Regions from separate parts of the Homo sapiens genome. Here region 2 is linked to region 1. Evidence: fine-mapped expression QTL. A gene starts in region 1. The other region holds a variant in brackets. All regions are shown on one strand. Distances are from middle to middle.

The links.
Region 2: its variant is fine-mapped to the expression of PTPN18 in whole blood (TOPMed, PIP above 0.99).

What each region holds. Positions count from the first base shown.
Region 1 is chr2:130,353,036-130,358,411 of GRCh38, forward strand. PTPN18 (protein tyrosine phosphatase non-receptor type 18) reads left to right here and starts at 3,021. Exons shown (of 15, transcript NM_014369.4): 1 at 3,021-3,165. The coding sequence starts at 3,073. RefSeq lists silencers at 2,601-3,270, 3,411-3,460.
Region 2 is chr2:130,374,113-130,379,488 of GRCh38, forward strand. PTPN18 (protein tyrosine phosphatase non-receptor type 18) reads left to right here. Exons shown (of 15, transcript NM_014369.4): 15 at 1-1,293. Among named protein-coding and RNA genes, the nearest start is that of PTPN18, 21 kb to the left of the region's middle. The variant C/T (reference allele first, on the strand shown) is at 2,259.

The DNA of each region.
Region 1 (5,376 bases):
CCGAGCAGCTGGGACTACAGGTGCCCGCCACCACGCCCGGCTAATTTTTTGTACTTTTAATAGAGAACGGGGTTTCACTGTGTTAGCCAGGATGGTCTCTGCCCTTTTTTAACTAAGCAAAAAAGGAAGCTGGAGAAGAACTGTACCCTGGAGATGCCAGCAGTCTCCAAGGAGCTCCCCGCAAGCATCCCAGAGGAAGGGGTGTCTGCCAGGGGTCTCCACTGTAGTTTCTCTTTTCCCCTTTGCAGGCTCAGAGCAGGCTGAACTCACAGCCTTGTGCACCTGTCCCTGTGCATCTTCCTCTACCTTGTCCTCTTGGCTCTGTTGAGCGGCCCATGTAGCCACACTGACTGGTGGGCAGGTGACAGACTGGCACATGGCACGTGGGCTTTGGTACACTTGGGGTCTCTGTAGCAGTGCCAGCAGCTCCCACTGTGCAAGACTGCTGCTGGCAGCGTGAACAGGAGGGCCACCAGCAGCAGTGAGTCTCATTGCAAGAACACAGCTGGCAGTCCTCCGGGAGAGAAAAGCCGGGGTGGGCCAGGGCCTCTGGAAGATGTGGGGTCTTCCCATCCCCCACACCTAGCCTGAGCTGAACAGAGGGCAAGCTAAGAGTTTGGATGTTTGGAGAGACATGAGGAACGGTCAGGTGTCAGGAGGACAGGTGGGTTAAACAACAAGGTGGGGCTTGGAGTGAGGGTGAACACGAGGACAGAAAGACACTCAAGGCAGCTGGAAGTACAAATGGCAGACTACAGCCTCAGCCACTTAATGTTCACAGGCCACAAGGCAGCATCTGGCTAGTCACTCAGATCCTCTAATAGACAAACCACCAAACACACACACACACACACACACACACACACACCCTGGCTGGACAGACTTCCAGATGGACAGAATCCCAGGGAAACACCCAGCTGGACAAACAGACAGATTACTGACAGATGGGTAGACCCTCAGCCAGACATCCAAATAGGCCTGTGGCCAGAGAGACACCTGGGCCCCCCAGCCAGGCAAAGGTCAGAATCCCTCAAGGACAGGTGCCCTCCCCAAAATGGACAGAGACATTACCCCAGAGGAGAGAACACCCCACCCACCTAGTCAACCAGACCTTCAGCTGGACGACATGCCCTCCACCAGTCAGACAGACCTCAGCCTATGAGGACAGGCCCTCAACAGGATCCCTGCTGCTGGACAGAGATCCTCTAGCCCATAAAGACTGCCCTGAATAACCATGTGTGCTCAGGGGCTCACATTTTCCCAGAAAATGTCTTTATTTTCTGAAAGCTTACTGATGCTTCTGTATTCTACCTCCCTGGATCTCCATGGCCATCCACAAACCCTCAATGATTATACTGAGAGTCACTATCATGCACTGAGCAGAGCTCTCAATGACTTCCCAGACTCTTCGGACCCTTCAATTACTAACACTCCAAATCCCAATGGCCCCACAATTACTTTCACTTCTTGTCCCAAGTATCCACTGGCCTCCCAATGACTGTCATTAATATCTACTGACACCCCCCCCCCCATGAACATCCAAGGGACCCCGACTGGCTTCCAATGAATTCCCTATCACCACCATCCTAAACAATTACCTCCCTGAGAATGCTCAAAGATGAAACTGATAAATGATGAACATGAATCTCACAGTGACCCCTGCGGACCCCACGATAAATCAAACAGCCCTAGCTGCTGATCCCCACAGAGCCACTTTGATCGCTCCATCACTTCAGCCAAGGTCAGCAAACGACAGCCTGTAGGCCACACACACACACTAGAATAATTCATGACACATGAACATTACATGAAATTCTGATTTCTTTGTCCATAAATGGTTTCTTTGGGACACAGCCACACTATATTGTCTGCTTTCATGCTGCCACAGCTGAGTTAAGCAGCTGGGGCAGCGATAGCAAAGCCAAAACCACTTCCTACCGGGACCTTTAAGAAAGTGTGCCCTTAAATACTCTGATAGCCCCTAGTGAATTAAATTGACCACCTGACATCATGCCCCTGTTGACCCTTCAGAGACTCAGGCACACATCCAGGCCCCAATGCTACCTTTCAACCCCTCAACGACCTCAAACTGGTGTCCACTGACGCCCCTTCCAGTGACACCCCTCTTAATTCTTCCGACCTCGGCGAGAAGGGGGCTAACCTAGGCCTGTCCTTGAAGAGACCCAGGTGCCAGTCCATTCTCTCCAGCCTCCCCTCGGTGATCCCGGAAGCTGGAACGGCGGCTCTCCTCTGACCTCTGCACACTTTCTGAAGATGGGAGTGTCAGGGCAGGCAAAAAAGAGAAGCTCTTCGTTCCCCAGAACCCACTTCCAGTGCCTCAGTTCTGTTTCCCAGCAGGCTTGTGCAGGTCGAGATGCTCACACAGGACTGACCCTGGTGCCCCAGCGCATCCGGGAAAAAGGAACCACAAATTCCTCGGGAAATACACAGAGAAGATCCCGCTGCCACTTGGCCTTTCCCACGGCGTGGCTGCCCCTCCCCGGCCTCCCTTGGGCCCGGCTGGAGCGCACAGCGCGGGACGCCCCCGACCCGGGGTCCTCTGGCACGAGGGGCAGCCTGATCTCGGCGACCGTCTCCACCCAAGGCTGCTGCCCGCCCCAGCTCGGACTCCGCGCGGCCTGGCTCCCAGGGGACGGGCGGGAGGGCCCGGCGAGACCGCTCGGCCGTCCACCCAGAGCCGGCACCCGGAGGTCGGCCCCTGGGCGCGGATCCCGATCTGAGGGCGGGTCCCAAGCGGCAGGGAGCGAACCTGGGACCGTGCCACCCCCCCACCAGTGGGCGCGGCAGCCGAAAAAAAGGGGAAGCGCCGGCGCTGGACTCTGCTCAGGGCAGCCCGCGAGGACCTAGGGCTCCGGCCACAGCGGCCCGAGCGCCCGGGGTGGGGCTACGCGGGCTCAGAACACGGTGGCTGGGGCGCCCTGCCCGCCGCTGCGCGCTTCCATTGGCTGCCGAGGCAAGGGCGGGGACTCAGTCACCGGCCTCCGCCTCCCGCGGCGTCCACACTCGCCGCGCGCGCGGCGGCCGGGCTGGACCTTGCTGGCCCGCGGCGCCATGAGCCGCAGCCTGGACTCGGCGCGGAGCTTCCTGGAGCGGCTGGAAGCGCGGGGCGGCCGGGAGGGGGCAGTCCTCGCCGGCGAGTTCAGCGTGAGTGGCACACGGGGTCCGCGAGCGGCGCGCCCCGGCCCTGGCCCTGCGTACGCCTGTCCTCCGCGCACGGCGGGCTCTGCCTTTCTGTCTCGGTGTCCCCGGTGTCTCCCCGCCTCGGGGGGTCTCTCCGTGTTTCTCTCCCCAGCACTTCTCTGTCGCTCTTGCTGTCTCCGTCTTCACTCTCTGCCCCCCGGCCCCGGAGCGCGACGTCCACGGCCAGGCCGGGACGGACCGTGCACACCCTCGTTCCCGGTGTCCTCGTCGCGCTCCCGGAACAACCTGGCTGCGGGCGGGACAGGTGGGGCGGGCGCCGCAGGGGAGGGCGGGCGGCCCTGCTGCGCTGGACAGCCCCGGCCCCGCCGCTTCTGGCGACCTGACTGTCCCCTGTGACCACAGGAAGGAAGGGGCTGCAGCAGGGCGAAGAGGAACACGGAGGCTGTGGCGTGGTGAGGGTGTGAACGCCGGGCTCGAATCCGCGTCCGGGCCCGAATCCGCTTCCCGTCCCGAATCCGCGTCCCGGCCATCCGCGTGTGGTCCAGGCGGTCTACCTGGCCCCTCTGACCTCGGCTTCTCCCTTGGTGAAATGGGGACATGAATGACCAAACTGGTCTAAGGATTAAATGATGTGGGTGAAAAGCACTTAGTACATATTGGGCGCACACTTCGTAGGGGCGTTCGTCACTGCCTATAAAGATTCTAAACGTGGGCCAGGTGCGGTGGCTCACACCTGTAATCCCAGCACTTTGGGAGGCCGAGGTGGGAGGATCGCTTGAGCTCAGGAGTTCGAGACCAGCCTGGGCAACACAGCGAAACCCCGTCTCTACTAAAAATACAAAAATCAACTGGGCATGGGCGCATGCCTGTAATCCCAGCTACTAGGGAGCAGAGACAGGGGACTCGCTTGAACCTGGGAGGCAGAGGTTGCAGTGAGCTGAGATGGTTCCACTGCACAGCTGAGATGGTGCCACTGCACTCCAGCCTGGGCCACAGAGTGAGATCCCATCTCAAACAAAACAAAACCAAACAAAAAATCTAAACGTTACAATACAGGTAGTGCAAGCCCAGCATTAGGAAGGCTCACGCAGAATGCTAGGCACTGTACATTACAGTTGATGACGTGTTTAAAGTGTAATCGCTTATGTACCAGACATAGAAACATACCATACAAACGCATAAACTGATATATGGTGACATGTATCAAGTTTAGAAATATGACAAATATATAAAAGTATTATAAATGACCGTTTATACAATAAACATTGCATAACTGCATAAAACAATACAACAAATGAATATAACAAAGATTATAATTTATAAAATGACCAAAGTTATTTGATAAATTCATAAGTAGATATAAAATATGTAACAGATGGCCGGGCACGGTGGCTCACGCCTATAATCCCAGCACTTTGGGAGGCCGAGGCGGGCGGATCACGAGGTCAGGAGATCCACACCATCCTGGCTAACACGGTGAAACCCCGTCTCTACTAAACACACAAAAAATTAGCTGGGCGTGGTGGCGGGCGCCTGTAGTCCCAGCTACTCGGGTGGCTGAGGCAGGAGAATGGCGTGAACCCGGGAGGCGGAGCTTGCAGTGAGCCGAGATCGCGCCACTGCAGTCCAGCCTGGGCAACAGAGCGAGACTCCATCTCAAAAAAAAAAAAAAAAAAAGTAACAGATAATTATAAACCTAAGTAATTTACACACATGTAGAAACATTGTATATAAGAAACTAAGAAATGCATAATAAATGTAAAATATATAATTATACAATATAAGAATGTGTGTAACAAATGTAAACATAATACCCATGTGATATATGACATCATGCGACTGGGTGGGTTCTGAACCGTGTACAGTGCGGAGGGCCTCACATGCGGAAGGCTGGGTGGCGAGGGCACCCCTGCTCCCCAAGCCTGCCTCCCGCATGTGCAGGAATCACTGCGCTCTTCTAGGTGTTCCCACTACACAAGGGCATCATGAGGGCTTAAATGACCCAATGGACACAAGTAAAGCACTTAGAATAGTGGCTGGCACACAGTGGTGGCATGGGTGTTACTTATTATCATTGAGATTACGAATACCTGACGATGATGGTAATACACGATTCACTAATTATTATTATAATCTCCCAGTAACACAGTGCCTATAGTATCTTGTACATAATATGTTATCCATTATAATGCCTATGCATTCATTGTACATTGT
Region 2 (5,376 bases), 21 kb after region 1:
ATGTCTTGATGGATGGACCCCAGCTAGTCAGACATGATCCTCCAGATTGACAGACAAGTCCCCCAAATGAGTACACATCTCCAGCTATTCAGACAGATGGACCCCCAGCAAATCAGGACCTATCTAGGCAGACCCCAGCCAGACCCCCGCCAGACAGACTCCCAACCAGACTGACCCCTTACTATTCACACAGCCTGCCGAGTAGCTGGGACTACAGGTCTAATTTTTTTTTTTTTTAAGAAATGAGTTTTTGCCATGTTGCCCAGACTGGTCTTGAACTCCCAACCTCAAGCAATCCTCCTGCCTCAGCCTCCCAAAGTGCTGAGATTACAGGTGTGAGCCACCAGGCTCAGCCCCCTAAGATTTGAAACACTTTAAATGGCCCATGGTAGGGTTCCTGCTAGGATAAAACATTAAGCGGCTGTTAAAAGAAATAAAAGGAGGACACGTCTCTGTGCACTGGTGTGGACAAATCTCCAAGTCACTGCAAAATGGAAAAAGTATAAGATGCTCTTTCCCTGAACCTCAAGGGTCCCGCCCCTCTCACTTTCAGGTCTCTGGACCTCTGACTGACACTGTGCCTGCCCAGGTCCCTGTATGCACTGCCACAGTGCCCTGGGCCCCATGTCCACCCCTGTCCTGCCCTTCTCTGGGATAGGGCTGGCCTTCCTCTGCCTCTGCCTGGCTGCATCCATGGTCGATCTCAAGTGCCTTGGCATGAACTCCACTCTCCTGCAGCCTTCAATCAAGGAATGATGGGGATGTGTACATACCCCACCCCACCCCTTGGCAGGGTGATGCTGAGGTGTGGATTTTTAACAGTTCCCAGACTTTCCCAGGAGGCTTGGGTTTGGGTGCCCACAGTGGGAGCTGGTGTGATATCATACCTTCGCCGGCCGCCTTTCCTTCCTGTTCTCTGTGCCCCTACTCCCACTCTAGAGCTGCCCCGTTTCTCTGTTTTCGTGAAAGAGCTGACCCTGTGCTGCCTCCCACTCTCCCAATGCCCCTGCCACTCCTGTGAGCCTGCTGCTGGTGAGGTCGGTGCTGACCTCTGTGTTGCTGGATAATGAGTCATCTATCTCTGGAGGAGAAGAAAGGCAGGTCCTCCACAGCCCTGATAAAATCTCCAAGTCTCCCAGTTTCGGGTCCCTCTCCTGGGATGCAGACCCACTGCCTGCCCAGCTGGTACGATCCACATGCCCTCTTCTTGGGAATAGGGGCATGGGAAAGTGACTAAAGATACTGTTCTGGCTGCTGTGTTCACTGTGAGTAATAAACTGTCCATTTCTCCGATTCAGAGGTCTGTTTTTCCTTTTTTTCTTCCCCAAAGATGGAGTCTTGCTCTGTCGCCCAGGCTGGAGTACAATGTCGCAATCTTGGCTCACTACAACCTCTGTCTCCGCCTCCCAGGTTCAAGCAATTCTTCTGCCTCAGCCTCTCAAGTAGCTGGGATTAAACGCGTGTACCACTATGCCCAGCTAATATTTGTATTTTTAGTAGAGATGGGGTTTCACCACGTTGGCAAGGCTGGTCTCGAACTCCTGACCTCGTGATCTACCTGCCCCTGCCTCACGAAGTGCTGGGATTACTGGCGTGAGTCACTGCTCCCGGCCTTGGTCTGGTGTTTTATACACATGTGCATGTGATGTGGAGCTGTGCAGGCCACCTTGTCAGCATGCGAGGAGGGTCCAGTCTCTGCGCCTTCTTGGTTTCTGACTTCACACCCAGTAGCCTCACTCCTGGCCCAGCATGGCAAGCACAGTTTCCACTCAGGCATTTGCCCTGGTTATTCTCTCTGCCTTGGATACTTTTCTCCTAGATTCTGCCTCTAATATATTTGAACATTTACCTCTTAATATTGTTTCCTGTCTCTCCTGATCAGAATGTAAGCTGCGTGAGGGCAGGAGTTTTTGTTTGGTTTACAGCTACTGTCCCAGCTCCGAGAACAGTGCTGACACTTAGGAAGTGTGCAGGCTGATTTATCTCACACCATTTACTCCGGGTTTCCTCACTTCTAGTAAAGTATGACACCTTGTCTCAAATATTCTTTTCCTCTTTCCAGACCCATGTCTTTGCTCATGTAGATCACTACTTCAGGCTGACATAAAAACCGTTCTCTTGTTAAGAAAGCTCAGCAATGGGAGAGGCAATCCTCCACCCGTCTCTTGCTCTCCTACAGGTCTTTCCTGGAGGTAGTGGGTTGAATGGTGGCCCCCAAAAAGATAGGTCCAAGTCCTAACTTCTAGAACCTGTGAATG[C/T]GACCTTATTTGGAAAAAGGGTCTTTGCAAATGTAATTAAAACACCTGGAGATGAAATCATCCTGTATTTAGGATGGGCCCTAAACCCAATGATGTCTTTATAAGAGAAAAGAGAGAGAGACGCAGAGACAAAGAGAAGAAGGTCATTGAGATGGAGGCAGAGATGGGGATGAAGTGTCTGCAAACCAAGGAATGCCAAAGATTGCCAGCAAACCACCAGGGGCCAGGAGAGAGGCCTGGCCGATTCTCCCTCACAGACAGTAGAGGGAACCACCCTGCTGACCCGTCAGTTTCAGGCTTTGGGACCTCAGAACTGTAAGAGAATAAACATGTTTTGAGCCACACGGTTTATAGTCATTTGTTATGGCAGCCACAGGAAACTCACACACTGGGTATCCAGGAATGCAAGGCCTGGCCGCTCCTGAACTGGGCATCTCAGAGCTGTGTTTGCAATAGGACACTGCAGCAGGTGATGTTTCCTTCTGGATATGCCCTGAGCTCAGGGCTCCTCTTCTGCAGTGCAGCCCACTGGGTGCACAGCATCTGTCTGGGCTCTCACAAACCCCCATGGGATGTGGGGGTCAATGGGACCGTTGCAGGCACCATACTCGTGTTGCTTTGTTTCTGACCCAGTAGGAACAGTGAAGGCTCAGCTGTCAGTTTCCAAGTAGGATCGGATCTGATGATGCCTCCTTTTCACAGGAGTTAGTTACTTCTCCTTTTCTGCTTTCAACATCCCCTGCCTTGACTTCTCTCCTTTGTATGGCATTTGTTTGTCTTAGACCGTGACGTCCTGAGAGAAAACTAGGCCCCATTTGTGGTTAGGTTGGTTTCCAATCTCAGGGGCAGAGAGCTGCTTTACATAATTGATGAAAACTTTGTTTCTGTTTCCTAACTCTCGATTCAGTGCTTTTTTCACATACTCCCAAGCTTACATGTCCTTGCTACCTTCAGAAACAAAACATGGTATTAAAAGTTGCTGCTGGATATTGGGCAGCTGATATCTGACCTCATGAAGCAGAAGGGGAGGGTGAGGAATTGCCACTTGCAATAGGGATCCCCTGAGCTTCCCTGATACTAACATGGTGGGGGGGGGGGCTTGATAAAAAACAAAGGGCAGGCTCAAGAGCTCAGGGCTGCTGCTGAGAGTCTAATGGCTTCTCAGCCCCTGGTAACCTTACCCTCCAGGCCCTACTCCCACCTCCTCTCCTGCCTCCCACCCGGTCAGTGCTCCACCAAACTTCACTGCCTTACTGGAGTGCTCCTCCCTACCCTCTCCTTCGGCCCAGTCTCCTTCATCCCGGGAGACCCAGCTCACATCTCACCTGCCCTGGGGATGTGGGGCCTTCTCCCTCTCCAGAATTTCTCTTCCCTCACACTGCTCCTCAGAGCACTTGGTGTCCACTTCATCACACCCCTGCCCTGGGCCGGCAGGATCCGGGGGCTACAGGCAGGTTCTATGGGTCAGGGATGGGTCTTGCTCCTCTTTGCCACCTAGGTGTTTGGAGCTTCCCCTGCACAGAGCAGTGCTCCGCAAATGCTTGTGGATTTCAGCTCAGTCAGTGTAATTGCTCAGTTGTGTACCAGAGAAATGGTCTTGTTGGAAAGAGCCTGCAGAATGCCAACTGCAGCCTCAGCGAAGGTGATAGAAAATATCACTAAGCAACGATGGCTTATCACTCTTTGTTCAATTATAGCTAAGTTCAGCCCAAACATAAGGTCAATATCTGAATAAACTATGCAGTAAGTGGGAATTGTTTCATTTATTTTATGGCATAGTTATTTTAGAATATACAAAATGGTCGAGGAGACATGAATCCTTAAGAGTGTATGAAAAAGACAAGTGTTTATAAAGCCATACCAGCATCCAATCAATGTCAGAAGCTTTAAGAGCTGAGAAATGTCCAAACATAAAGTGTACTTGAGAAGTGATTTCCATTGGATTCCATTGCTCTCAAACAGACCCTGGCTCTGCAGCCTTACTTTTGAGGATGACTTCTCCAACAGATCTGTCTGCCTGTCTGGGGACAGATGATTGATGAGGTCAGCAAGCTGAACGATGTCACCTCTCCAGCCCCAAGCCTTTTTCAGGTACCAGAAATGGGAATTTTTATATTATCTCATTTAACATGTCTTGGCGAGCAGGACCCCAGGTTTTTAAGTCTTTGGGTTCTCCCATAGGTTTAGCACTGAGTTGTTGATCAATAAACATTTTTTGAATTTAATAAGAAAAGAAAAGCTTGGTGGGAAAGAGCTCTAAAGTTGAACTTTCTCCACCCTGACCTTCAAACCAGTCAAAGAGCCCCACCAGGGTTTGGGATCAGTAGCTCTGCCACTGCCAGCCAATGTTTCAAATTTGCATTGTCATATGTACAGCAGATGCCTCTAAGCAGTCAGCATCCAGAATATCAACAATTACTTGCAATATTTTGGTGAGATAGCCGACTTCCCCAGAAATGTGCCTACTGTATACACACCATCCCCAGTGTTGACATTTGGAAAATGGGAGAATCTCATGATCTCCTTGAACCTGGGACAAATGTGTTTGGTCCCTTCCTCACTGAGGCTGAACAAAGTCCATTCCAACCCTGCAATACAGAAATGTGGCCCAAGTTGCTGAGTGAGTGGGGAGGAAGTAGTCGCTGCATAGGCCGCTGGCAACTACTCATTCAGAGGCCTTTGTTCGTTTGATTTTGCTTAGACAAACCTGACCCCATAGGCACACTCAATTCATCAGCTCATGTGTCCCATGTGCCAGCAACAGAATAGTGTGCCTAAGATGTGTTCTCTAAGTGACTGAACTTTCCTGCTTTTCAGGCAGTCTAGTGATGGGTCAAGAGAGCCTAAGAGCTATTTGAATTGAGGAGGATTTTGATTACACTAGAATAATCAGACTTCAAGAAATTTACCATTAACACCAACTATGTGCAGCTCTCACCATTAGTGTCTGTCTTCCTACACAAGTTTATTGTTAAATTATATTTGTCTTTTTTTTTTTCCTGGAAAGGCAAGTTAGATGTCTAGGGGATTTTATGTCTGATAAATGCCTCTAGTTGGAGATGTATTACAAAGAAATTTAGACTCCCCAGGACTGAGTGGAGTAATTAGTGTATTTCTA